Linked DNA regions of Homo sapiens: region 1 is linked to region 2. Evidence: fine-mapped expression QTL. Tissue or cell type: thyroid. Region 2 holds a variant in brackets; the other region holds the start of a gene. All regions are shown on one strand. Distances are between the middles of the regions.

Evidence for each region. PIP is the estimated chance that this variant, and not a neighbour inherited with it, causes the effect.
Region 1: POLE starts here. The variant in region 2 is fine-mapped to the expression of POLE in thyroid (GTEx, PIP 0.96).

Annotation. Positions count from the first base shown.
Region 1 is chr12:132,684,858-132,689,957 of GRCh38, forward strand. POLE (DNA polymerase epsilon, catalytic subunit) reads right to left here and starts at 2,485. Exons shown (of 49, transcript NM_006231.4): 1 at 2,397-2,485. The coding sequence starts at 2,458. It overlaps PXMP2 (peroxisomal membrane protein 2), which reads left to right and starts at 2,730. Exons shown (of 5, transcript NM_018663.3): 1 at 2,730-2,935. The coding sequence starts at 2,814. RefSeq lists a silencer at 1,936-3,245.
Region 2 is chr12:132,569,052-132,574,051 of GRCh38, forward strand. FBRSL1 (fibrosin like 1) reads left to right here. Exons shown (of 19, transcript NM_001367871.1): 7 at 875-1,190; 8 at 1,284-1,489; 9 at 2,017-2,180; 10 at 3,237-3,293; 11 at 3,476-3,571. Among named protein-coding and RNA genes, the nearest start is that of MIR6763, 10 kb to the right of the region's middle. The variant C/T (reference allele first, on the strand shown) is at 2,195.

The DNA of each region.
Region 1 (5,100 bases), 120 kb after region 2:
CACAGGCTCTCATTCACAGAGAGCTACCATTGACTGGTTACTATATCACACCGTCCCAGTACTCCACACAGGCTCTCATTCACAGAGAGCTACCATTGACTGGTTACTGTATCACACCGTCCCAGTACTCCACACAGGCTCTCATTCACAGAGAGCTACCATTGACTGGTTACTGTATCACACAATCCCAGTACTCCACAGGCTCTCATTCACAGAGCTACCATTGACTGGTTACTATATCACACCGTCCCAGTACTCCACACAGGCTCTCATTCACAGAGAGCTACCATTGACTGGTTACTATATCACACCGTCCCAGTACTCCACACAGGCTTTCATTCACAGAGCTACCATTGACTGGTTACTGTATCACACCGTCCCAGTACTACACACAGGCTCTCATTCACAGAGAGCTACCATTGACTGGTTACTGTATCACACTGTCCCAGTACTCCACACAGGCTCTCATTCACAGAGAGCTACCATTGACTGGTTACTGTATCACACCGTCCCAGTACTCCACATATGCTCTCATTCAGTTTTCATGACAACCCCTACGAGGGAGGCCACTGGTGTCCCCATTTCACACAAGAAGAAACGCAGGCAAACAGCACCCACTGCCTCCTGGGGCACACTCACCTCCCAGGACTGTTTTAAGGATGAGATGAGGTAACCCACATAAAGCATGTAAGGTAAAAGCCATCACTTGTACTTATCCCAGCAGCAGCCTTCCCCCTGCCTGGAGGCCATCACTGAGCTTGGGGCAGGGCAGTGGAGTGGAGCACGTGAGTGCAGTCCTGTGTCCTGAAGCAGGGCAGTCAGTAACCGTCTCTAAGCTCCAAGTTCCAACACACCATGTAGACCCTAAGGGTACCTGCCTCTCTAGGGCTTGCCTGATATGGACAGACAGCGATGAGCACAACAGCAGTTAGGGATCCTTACCACTTGGTTTCTCCTCTGGGAAGAATTTTGTTCAGCTAAGTGTCTGTAAAAAGCTTCACGTTCTCACACGTTTTTTCTATTTTTTTTTTTTTGAGACAGAGTTTCATTCTTTGTTGCCCAGCCTGGAGTGCAATGGCGCGATCTCGGTTCACCGCAACCTCCGCCTGCCGCGTTCAAGTGATTCTCCTGCCTCAGCCTCCTGCGTAGCTGGGATTACAGGCATGCGCCACCACGCCCCGCTAATTTTGTATTTTTTTAGTGGAGACGGGATTTCTCCATGTTGGTCAGGCTGGTCTCGAACTCCTGACCTCAGGTGATCCTCCTGCCTCGGCCTCCCAAAGTGCTGGGATTACAGGTGTGAGCCACCGCGCCGGGCCTCATCCGTTTTCTGCTTATGGCAGGCCAGTCCTCCGGTCATGTTTACCGTTTGCTCTGGCCACCAAGCAGCCGCGTCTTATCCTTGCTCTATTTTTTTTGAGACTGGGTCTGGCTCCGTCGCCCAGGCTGGAGTGCGGTGGCGCGATCCCGGCTCACAGCAGCCTTGACCTGCCGGGCTCAGGTGAACCTCCGGCTCGGATTCGGGAGTATTAATAGCTGGGACCTCGGGCGCGCACCACCAGCCTGTCTAATTTTTCTTGTTTTTACAAGAGAAGGGCCGGGCGCGGAGTCTCACGTCTGTAATCCCAGCACTTTGGAAGGCCGAGGCGGGCGGATCACCTGAGGTCAGGAGTTCGAGACCAGCCTGGCCAACATGGTGAAACCCGGTCTCTACTAAAAATACAAAAACTAGCCGGGCCTGGTGGCGGGCGCCTGTAATTCCAGCTACTCGGGAGGCTGAGGCAGCGGGATCGCTTGAACCCGGGAAGCAGAGGTTGCAGTGAGCCGAGATCGCGCCACTGCACTCCAGCCTGGGCGACAGAGCGGGACTCCCTGCCCAAAAAAATAAAACAGAGGAGACGAGGTCTCTCTCTGTAGCCCAGGCTGATCTAGAACAGGATCCTGGGCTCCAGCGATCCGCCCGCCTCGGCCTCCCCCAGCGCTAGGCCCCCAGGCAGGGTCCCCGGCCCCGCCCCTCCCCGCACCCTCCCCAGCCGCGCGTCCACCCCGCAGGGCCTGGCCCGGGTCCCGCCGCTCTCATCGCCCCCGCCGCGCGGCAGGTCCCAAACGCAGCTGCGCGGAAGGCGAGGCCCGAAAAACCTCAGAAAGAGCCGAGCAGGGAAAGGCCGCGCGGCCCGCCTCGTTTCCCCGCAAAGAAGCCGCGCCCGTAGCGCCTCCGCCCGCCCCGAGCCCCTCCGTCGGCGGTCGGGGCGCGCCGCCCTACCCCAGTCAGGCGCGGCGAGTGCGGGCGGCTGCGGGAACCGGGCCTCCCTCCCGCCTCGGCGGCGCCAGCCGAGGACGGCCCCATGGCACCCTCCGGAGGGCCGGCCCGAGAGCCTCAGGAGGGCGCCCCTCACCTGCTGGCCTCGCCATCCGCGCCTGGGTCCGCGCGCCGCCGCCCGCCGCTCCTCAGAGACATGGAGCCGTTGGCTACCACCTCTGCTTCAGGGGAGAAATTTGGCGCGCTCCCACCCAGACTCGCGAGAGCCGGAAATGCCGCCGTCCATCAAGAGGCGCGCTCCGCCCCTCCCCCGCCCCCCGAGGCGCTCCAATTGGCGCCGGCGCCCGGCGGGGGAGGTGGCCGGCAGGGACCGGGGAAAAGTGTGTGGTAGGCGCGCGCGGCGCACCGTGGGGTTGGGACCGGGCGGCGCTGCGGGCCGCGGTGGGGCCGGAAATGTCAGGCGGTCCCCACTCCGCTCTCGGCGCCTCGGGCTCCGCGCCCGGCCAGCCTGAGGTGGGGTCGGTGCCCCCGGCGGCACGGCGCTGGGGAGGCGATGGCGCCGGCCGCGTCCAGGCTGCGGGCCGAAGCCGGGCTCGGGGCGCTGCCGCGGCGGGCGCTCGCCCAGTACCTGCTCTTCCTGCGGCTCTACCCGGTGCTCACCAAGGCGGCCACCAGGTGAGCGGGGGCGCGGGAATCGGACGCCGCCCCGGCCCCAGGTCGGCCGCAGCGGCGCGGGGCCTGGACGGGAGCGCCGGGCCGGGACCAGGCTGGGGGCGCGCCCGGGTCAGAACCCCCGGAGCGGGCGCCCTCCGACCCGGCGCTGAACTTCCCGCGGCGACACCCGCGTCCGCAGTCAGCGATTGTGAGGCGCCTTGCGGATCCCGCCCTCCCAGCGCGTGGAGGGCCCGCCCAGACCCGGGGGTCGGCGCTGAGGTTCCACCCAAGGACCCAACAGGGGCCCCGCGCGCCCGGGGAAGCCACGGCAAGGGGAGCGGGTCCGCAGGCGCGGGTGAAGACAGGGCGAGGGGAGCGGGTCTGCGGGGCGCGGGTGAAGACAGGGCGAGGGGAGCGGGTCTGCGGGGCGCGGGTGAAGACAGGGCGAGGGGAGCGGGTCTTGGGGGCGCGGGTGAAGACAGGGCGAGGGGAGCGGGTCTGCGGGGCGCGGGTGAAGACAGGGCCAGGGGAGCGGGTCTGCGGGGCACGGGTGAAGACAGGGCCAGGGGAGCGGGTCCTCATGGAGCGTGTGGAGACAGGGCCAAGGGAGCGAGTCTGCGGGGCGCGGGTGAAGACAGCGCCAGGGGAGCGGGTCTTGGGGGCGCGGGTAAAGACAGGGCCAGGGGAGCGGGTCCTCATGGCGCGGGTGGAGACAGGGCCAAGGGAGCGGGTCTGCGGGGCGCGGGTGAAGACAGGGCCAAGGGAGCGGGTCTGCGGGGCGCGGGTGAAGACAGGGCGAGGGGAGCGGGTCTGCGGGGCACGGGTAAAGACAGGGCCAAGGGAGCGGGTCTGCGTGGTGCGGGTGAAGACAGGGCCAGGGGAGCGGGTCTGCGGGGCACGGGTGAAGACAGGGCGAGGGGAGCGGGTCTTGGGGGCGCGGGTGAAGACAGGGCCAGGGGAGCGGGTCTGCGGGGCACGGGTGAAGACAGGGCGAGGGGAGCGGGTCTTGGGGGCGCGGGTGAAGACAGGGCCAGGGGAGCGGGTCTGCGGGGCACGGGTGAAGACAGGGCGAGGGGAGCGGGTCTTGGGGGCGCGGGTGAAGACAGGGCCAGGGGAGCGGGTCTGCGGGGCACGGGTGAAGACAGGGCCAGGGGAGCGGGTCCTCATGGAGCGTGTGGAGACAGGGCCAAGGGAGCGAGTCTGCGGGGCGCGGGTGAAGACAGCGCCAGGGGAGCGGGTCTTGGGGGCGCGGGTAAAGACAGGGCCAGGGGAGCGGGTCCTCATGGCGCGGGTGGAGACAGGGCCAAGGGAGCGGGTCTGCGGGGCGCGGGTGAAGACAGGGCCAAGGGAGCGGGTCTGCGGGGCGCGGGTGAAGACAGGGCGAGGGGAGCGGGTCTGCGGGGCACGGGTAAAGACAGGGCCAAGGGAGCGGGTCTGCGTGGTGCGGGTGAAGACAGGGCCAGGGGAGCGGGTCCACATGGAGCGTGTGGAGACAGGGCCAAGGGAGCGAGTCTGCGGGGCGCGGGTCCGCACGGCGCGGGTGGAGACACGGCCAGGGAAGGTGTTTTGAGAAGGTGACATTGAACAGGCTGTGTAAAGAAGTGGAGCAGAGGCTCTCCTGGCACAGGGAACAGCAGGGCAAAGGTCTCTGTTAGGTTTTGAAGGGAAGGCCGGCGTTAAAGAAAGGCGGAGAGAGGTGCAGCTTGGACTCAGTCCCGAGGGAGGGAAGATCTGTGTGTGGAGAAAGTGAACCCTGAGCAAGAGGCAGGAGATGTGAAGGGAATCGCCAGGGATCTGATCGAGAAGGTGTCTAGGTCCGTGCTAGGAATTTTGGATTTTATAGTCCAGAGAGCTTCTCAGAAGGCAAATACAAACCAAGGCCTGGAGGGAGCCACTGGGCCTGTTCCACCTTTTTATGGAAATTTTTATTGTGATAATTGTAGATTCACAAACAGTTACAAGACTAACATGGAGAGATTCCTTGCACACCTTCCCAGTGTCCCCCATTGGTTACATTCTGTGAAACGTAGTGCAGTATCGACCAGGGCATTGCGTGGACACAGTCCACAGATCCTATTCGGATTTCTCCATTTTTCTTGTAGCTGTATCTGTTCTGTACAGTTTTATCACATCTGTACATTCTTGTGTTCACTACCACAGTCAAAATGCAGAACAGCGTCATGATA
Region 2 (5,000 bases):
GTTGTTTTGTTTCTCCTGCGAAACTGGCCCCCTGACCGTGGCAGCTCCTGACCCCAGGCAACAGGAGCTCCACCACATGGACGCTGCCCTCTCCTGACTCCTGGGGACTTGATCTGAGACCTGCCCGAAGGGGCCTGAAAAGGAGGGTTTGGGGTGTGCGGGGGTGGGGGGGGCAGGCCCCAGGGGCTCAGAGGGGCCCACAGGACCTGCGGGGGACGTGCCTAGGTGGGCAGAAGGGTGGCCAGGGAGCAGGGCTGAGGGTGGCGGGTGACGGGCAGTCACAGTAGGGGGAAGCCTCCCACCCAGTCCCTGCCCAAGTTTCCAGGAAGTGGTCAAGCCTTCCACCAGGGGGTTCCAGAAAGAAAAGGTGGTTACAGCTGTGGGCGCTGCTGTTGGGGTGGGGCAGACCCATGCCCTGGGCTGAGGGCACATCCAGGGGCCGTGAACATGAGGCCTAGGTACACAGGCCCTAGCTCCCGTGTTCAAATCCAGCTCCCCTCTTGGGCCAAGTCCTTGATGTATCTTGGTTTTGTCTGTTAAATGAGGTCATAGCAGCCCCTGTCCAGGGACTGACTCTTGCAGGGCCTGTCCTGTCCCTGCCAGTGATGCGTCTTCGGGCAGGTGGGCTACCCACCCCCACCCCTGGCCACGGCCCAGGCTCCCAAGCCAGCTCCCTCCGCCGGGCGGGGCCTGGAGCCTCGGGTGAGATCCAGCTAGCTGTGTGGCCTCCGTGCCTGCCTCCTCATCTGAAATGGGGGCATAGCCGGAGCCCAGACATAGCCTGGGCACCGGGCACGTACCAGGGCTCCCTGGGCCACAGGAGGGGCAGGGACGAGGCCCTGCTGGTCTGAACGCAGCCACCCTCTCTCTGCAGGCCCAGCGCTTGAGAAGTCGGAGGCCAAGGCCGGGCCGGTGCCCAAGGTGTCAGGCCTGGAGCGCAGCCGCGAGCTCAGCGCCGAGAGCTTCCTGCCCACTGCCAGCCCCGCGCCCCATGCCGCGCCCTGCCCGGGGCCCCCGCCCGGCTCCCGCGCCAATCCCTTGGTGAAGAAGGAACCCCCCGCCCCGCACCGCCACACCCCGCAGCCGCCACCCCCGCAGCCCCGCGGCCTGCTCCCGACACACGTGCCTGCATCCCTGGGCGCCTTCGCGGGCCACAGCCAGGCGGCAGCCAACGGCCTGCACGGCCTCAGGTGGGGTCCCCGCGGGGGACGGGGCCTGTGTGGTCTCAGGATGGGGGCTCTGCAGGGGTCGGGCTGGCAGGCACTGAGCCCCGTGTCCCGCAGCAGGAGCAGCAGCGCCCCCCTGGGCCTGGGGAAGCACGTGTCGCTGTCGCCACACGGGCCGGGCCCCCACCTGTCTACCTCACACCTGGCGCTCCGGTCCCAGGCGCAGCACCAGCTCCACGCGGCCATGTTTGCCGCACCCCCGACACTGCCCCCGCCCCCGGCGCTGCCGGCCAGCAGCCTGGTCCTCCCAGGACACCCGGCCGGTAGGTGTCTCGGCCACAATCTCGCCCAGGGCAGGGGTTGGGGGGTGCGGGGACACGGCCACCGGGGAGGGGCGCACAGCCTGGCCCTCCACCTGCTGTGGTCTCTGCGGACCCTGCGCGCCTCTCTGAGTGGTTCCCCCAGGTGTGCCTTTCCCCAGGAGTCTCTGCTGGGCCACAGGCCATCTGTGTGCGGGGACAGGCAGGACACGTGCCCATGCACGTACAGACGCGTGTTCACACTGAGACGGGCGCACGGGCCTCCCCTCCTGGGGCCAGGCCTCCCCCGCAGCCTGCTGGGTCCTGAGCCCTGGGAGGAGGGGGCCGCACATCAAGCAGGCGCCATCCCAGTGGAACCCCGACCGCGAAGGCTTCCTCCCTCGGCCCCCAGGCGCTTCCTGAGGCTCCGAGTCAGCCCGGCCCAGGCTGGGGACGGCCCCGTGTCCCGGGATGGGACCAGGATGCTGGCCTGCGGGTGGCTGGACCCTGGCTCCCGGGGAGGGGCTCACCGTGTTCTCTCTTGCCTCTAGATGCCAGCCTGGCGGTCTCATTCAGCCAGCCAATCATGTATTGCCAGCCTCATTCGGGAATTCTGATTGGTACTTGGTCACAGGCTCCTCTCTTACCTGCACCCCTGGGCCCGCACGTGGCGAGCGGCCACCCCGGCTTGGCCTGCCGACCCCGGGAGTGCCAGGTGACTATCCGCCT[C/T]GCCCCGCCGGGAGCCCGCGGCCAACGTGCCTCTCTGTCTCTCTCTCTTTTTCTCTTGTAGATCACGAGCTGCTCAGGCAAGAGCTGAACACGCGGTTTCTGGTGCAGAGCGCCGAGCGGCCTGGCGCCTCCCTGGGCCCGGGGGCTCTGCTGCGGGCGGAGTTCCATCAGCACCAGCACACACACCAGCACACGCACCAACACACACACCAGCACCAACACACATTCGCCCCCTTCCCCGCAGGGCTGCCCCCGACGCCGCCCGCCGCACCCCCGCCGGTGCGTAGGCCCGCGTGCTGGCAGGGGGCGGGGGCGGGCGTGGGGCGGGGACACGCAGCAGGCACACACAGACACACGCTCGCACACACACCAGCCCAGGAGGAGGTGGGGGGCCGGCGGCACCTCTCTGTCGTCTGTCCGGTCCCCAACGTGCCTTCTGGTGTCCCCACCCCAAGCTGTGCCATGAGGCCCCCACCCTCGGCAGTGGTCCTGGACTTAGGCAGGCACCCCGTGCCCACGTGCATGGGACACCCTCACGCCTGCACTAGATCCCCAGTGCCAGGGCTGGAGGCCCAGACAGGCCTGAGGGCACAGGGACCATGACTCAGGGTGCCTCCCGTGTTCCCCGCCCCGGAGGCCCGGTCTGAGGAGGGAGTTGCTGGGGGCTGGAGTCCCCTCCACTCTCTCGAGTTTTATTCGGAAACTGGCCAGTTTGTCAGTAACCCGGTGTGTCCCCAGCGCGACCCAGCAGCCAGGGCTTCACGCCCCAGGCCTCAGCCAGGCACACAGACTGCCTGGGGGGGCCGAGTTCCCACCCCATGCAAGGGGACCCTTAGAATGGCAGGGCCGCCCTGGTCTGAGACTGAGTTCAGAGCCGTGGGGCTGGCGCTCTAGAGGAGCCTGGGACGGCTGGCCGAAGCCGCCAGCCTCAGGAAGCACAACGCCGTCCTGTCACTGCCCAGCCCGGCCAGGTGGGCGGGGCCCGGGGCCCAGCAACGGTGTCGTGTGTGCGGGGCCTCACCCTCCTCTCCTTCCCTTCCAGTTTGACAAGTATGCGCCCAAGCTGGACAGCCCCTACTTCCGACATTCCAGCGTGAGTGTGAGTGTCCCCGAGGGGCCCGGCGCGTGTCGCTGTGCACGCAGGTCCTGGCCACGGGGCGGTGGGTGGGGCTGCCCCTCGCCTGGCCTCGCCCCTGCTGCATTGGTGCCACCTTCTGGTTACAGGCAGAGGGTGGGGTGAGGACTTGGGCCCCCCCTCCATCCGCTCTCCTTCTCTTACAGTTCTTCCCGTCCTTCCCTCCTGCCATCCCGGGACTGCCCACCCTGCTCCCACACCCCGGCCCCTTCGGGTCCCTGCAGGGCGCTTTTCAGCCTAAGGTACCGCTGCCCCTGGCAGGTGGGGCGGGCACAGCGGGTGGGTGGATTTTGGGGGGAGTGCATGACAACCTCGCCAAACTCTCTGCCCACAACCACCCCCCTTTCCCTCCCTTGTACCTGTCGTCATCTGGGTGCTGGCGTGAGCAGCCCCTGCCAGGATGGGGGGCCCTGCGGTCTGTGTGTGGCCACCGTGGGAGGGACAGGGGGTCCAGCCTGGGAGCAGCCCTGGGAGGTGGTGGGACCGTGTGGAGAGCACACTGTGGAAGCCTCGAAGGAGAACATTCCAGTCCTTGGCAGGAGGCCCTGGTGTGGACAGCAGCCTCACAGGCCGTCCTTACCGCAAGGAGGTTCTTACGGGGCCATCCACACTGCGAGGAGGTTCTTACGGGGCCGTCCACACCGTGGGGGACCCGGGCCTTACGGGGCCGTCCACACCCGCAGGGGACCTGGGTAGCAGGAGGTTGTGTGCCATCTCAGCCAGGGGAGAGGGAACCCCGTGACCCTCCTCACTGTTCCTGGCCTTGTGCTGTAACCCCACCCTCTGCGGAGGGGCACACAGCTCTCAGTCCTGAAGCCGCCTCACCTGTGGGCCTCAGGTTCTGAAGACGGGGCCTGGACCATCCCCGGTAGCTGCCAAGCCCTTGACCTCCCAGGATCCTGCAGCGCCCACTCATTGCCCACAGCTGCCCTGAAGGGCCCAGCACGCACCCCTGGGCTCCCCTGGGGCACCGCCCACATCGTGGACGGGCAGATAGTGCTTCCGAGGACCAGGCACCCCTGGGCACTAGAGGGTCTTGGACCCCCAGACCCCGTGGTTGAGGAATTCAGAGGAATGGAGAAGGGATGTATGTGGCCCACCTGCAGGTGTCGAGCAGGGACCCCCAGACTGGGACTCGGGGGTACTGCCCTGAGCCCAGACAGCCAGGACGCTGAGGCCCTGAGTCTGGGAGGGAAGGAATCTGTCCCGGCCGCACCCCGAGCACAGCTGCTTCTGGGCAGGGTGGTAGCCCAGAGGGAAGGGGCGGTAGAGCCAGTCTGGGGAGGAGGGGGCTGTGGTGTGATGGCCGGTCTTTGCTGTGGGACCCCCCTTTCCCTGGCGCCCCTGGTGGGAAACGACCATCTCCCCTTGGCCCATCCAGGCTCACAGCAGCTCCTCCTGGGCTGGAGACTAGGTGTGCACCACTCCCCCTCTGGGTGGGGCTGTCTCGGCCCTGGTGGCAAGTGGCTCCCCGGGGAGGGTCGCCCACCTTCCCTGGCAAGAGCACCTGCTTCCCACCTTTGCAGAAACTGGCGGGCCAAAAGTGTGGTGGTCCTGCGAGGGAGGGCAGGCTGTCCCTGGGAGACAGCGTGCGGGGCCCCACGGCAAGGCAAAGCAGGGCACAGGCCCACGCCAGAACCAGGAAGCCCGAGGCGTCCTCCTGCCTGGGCG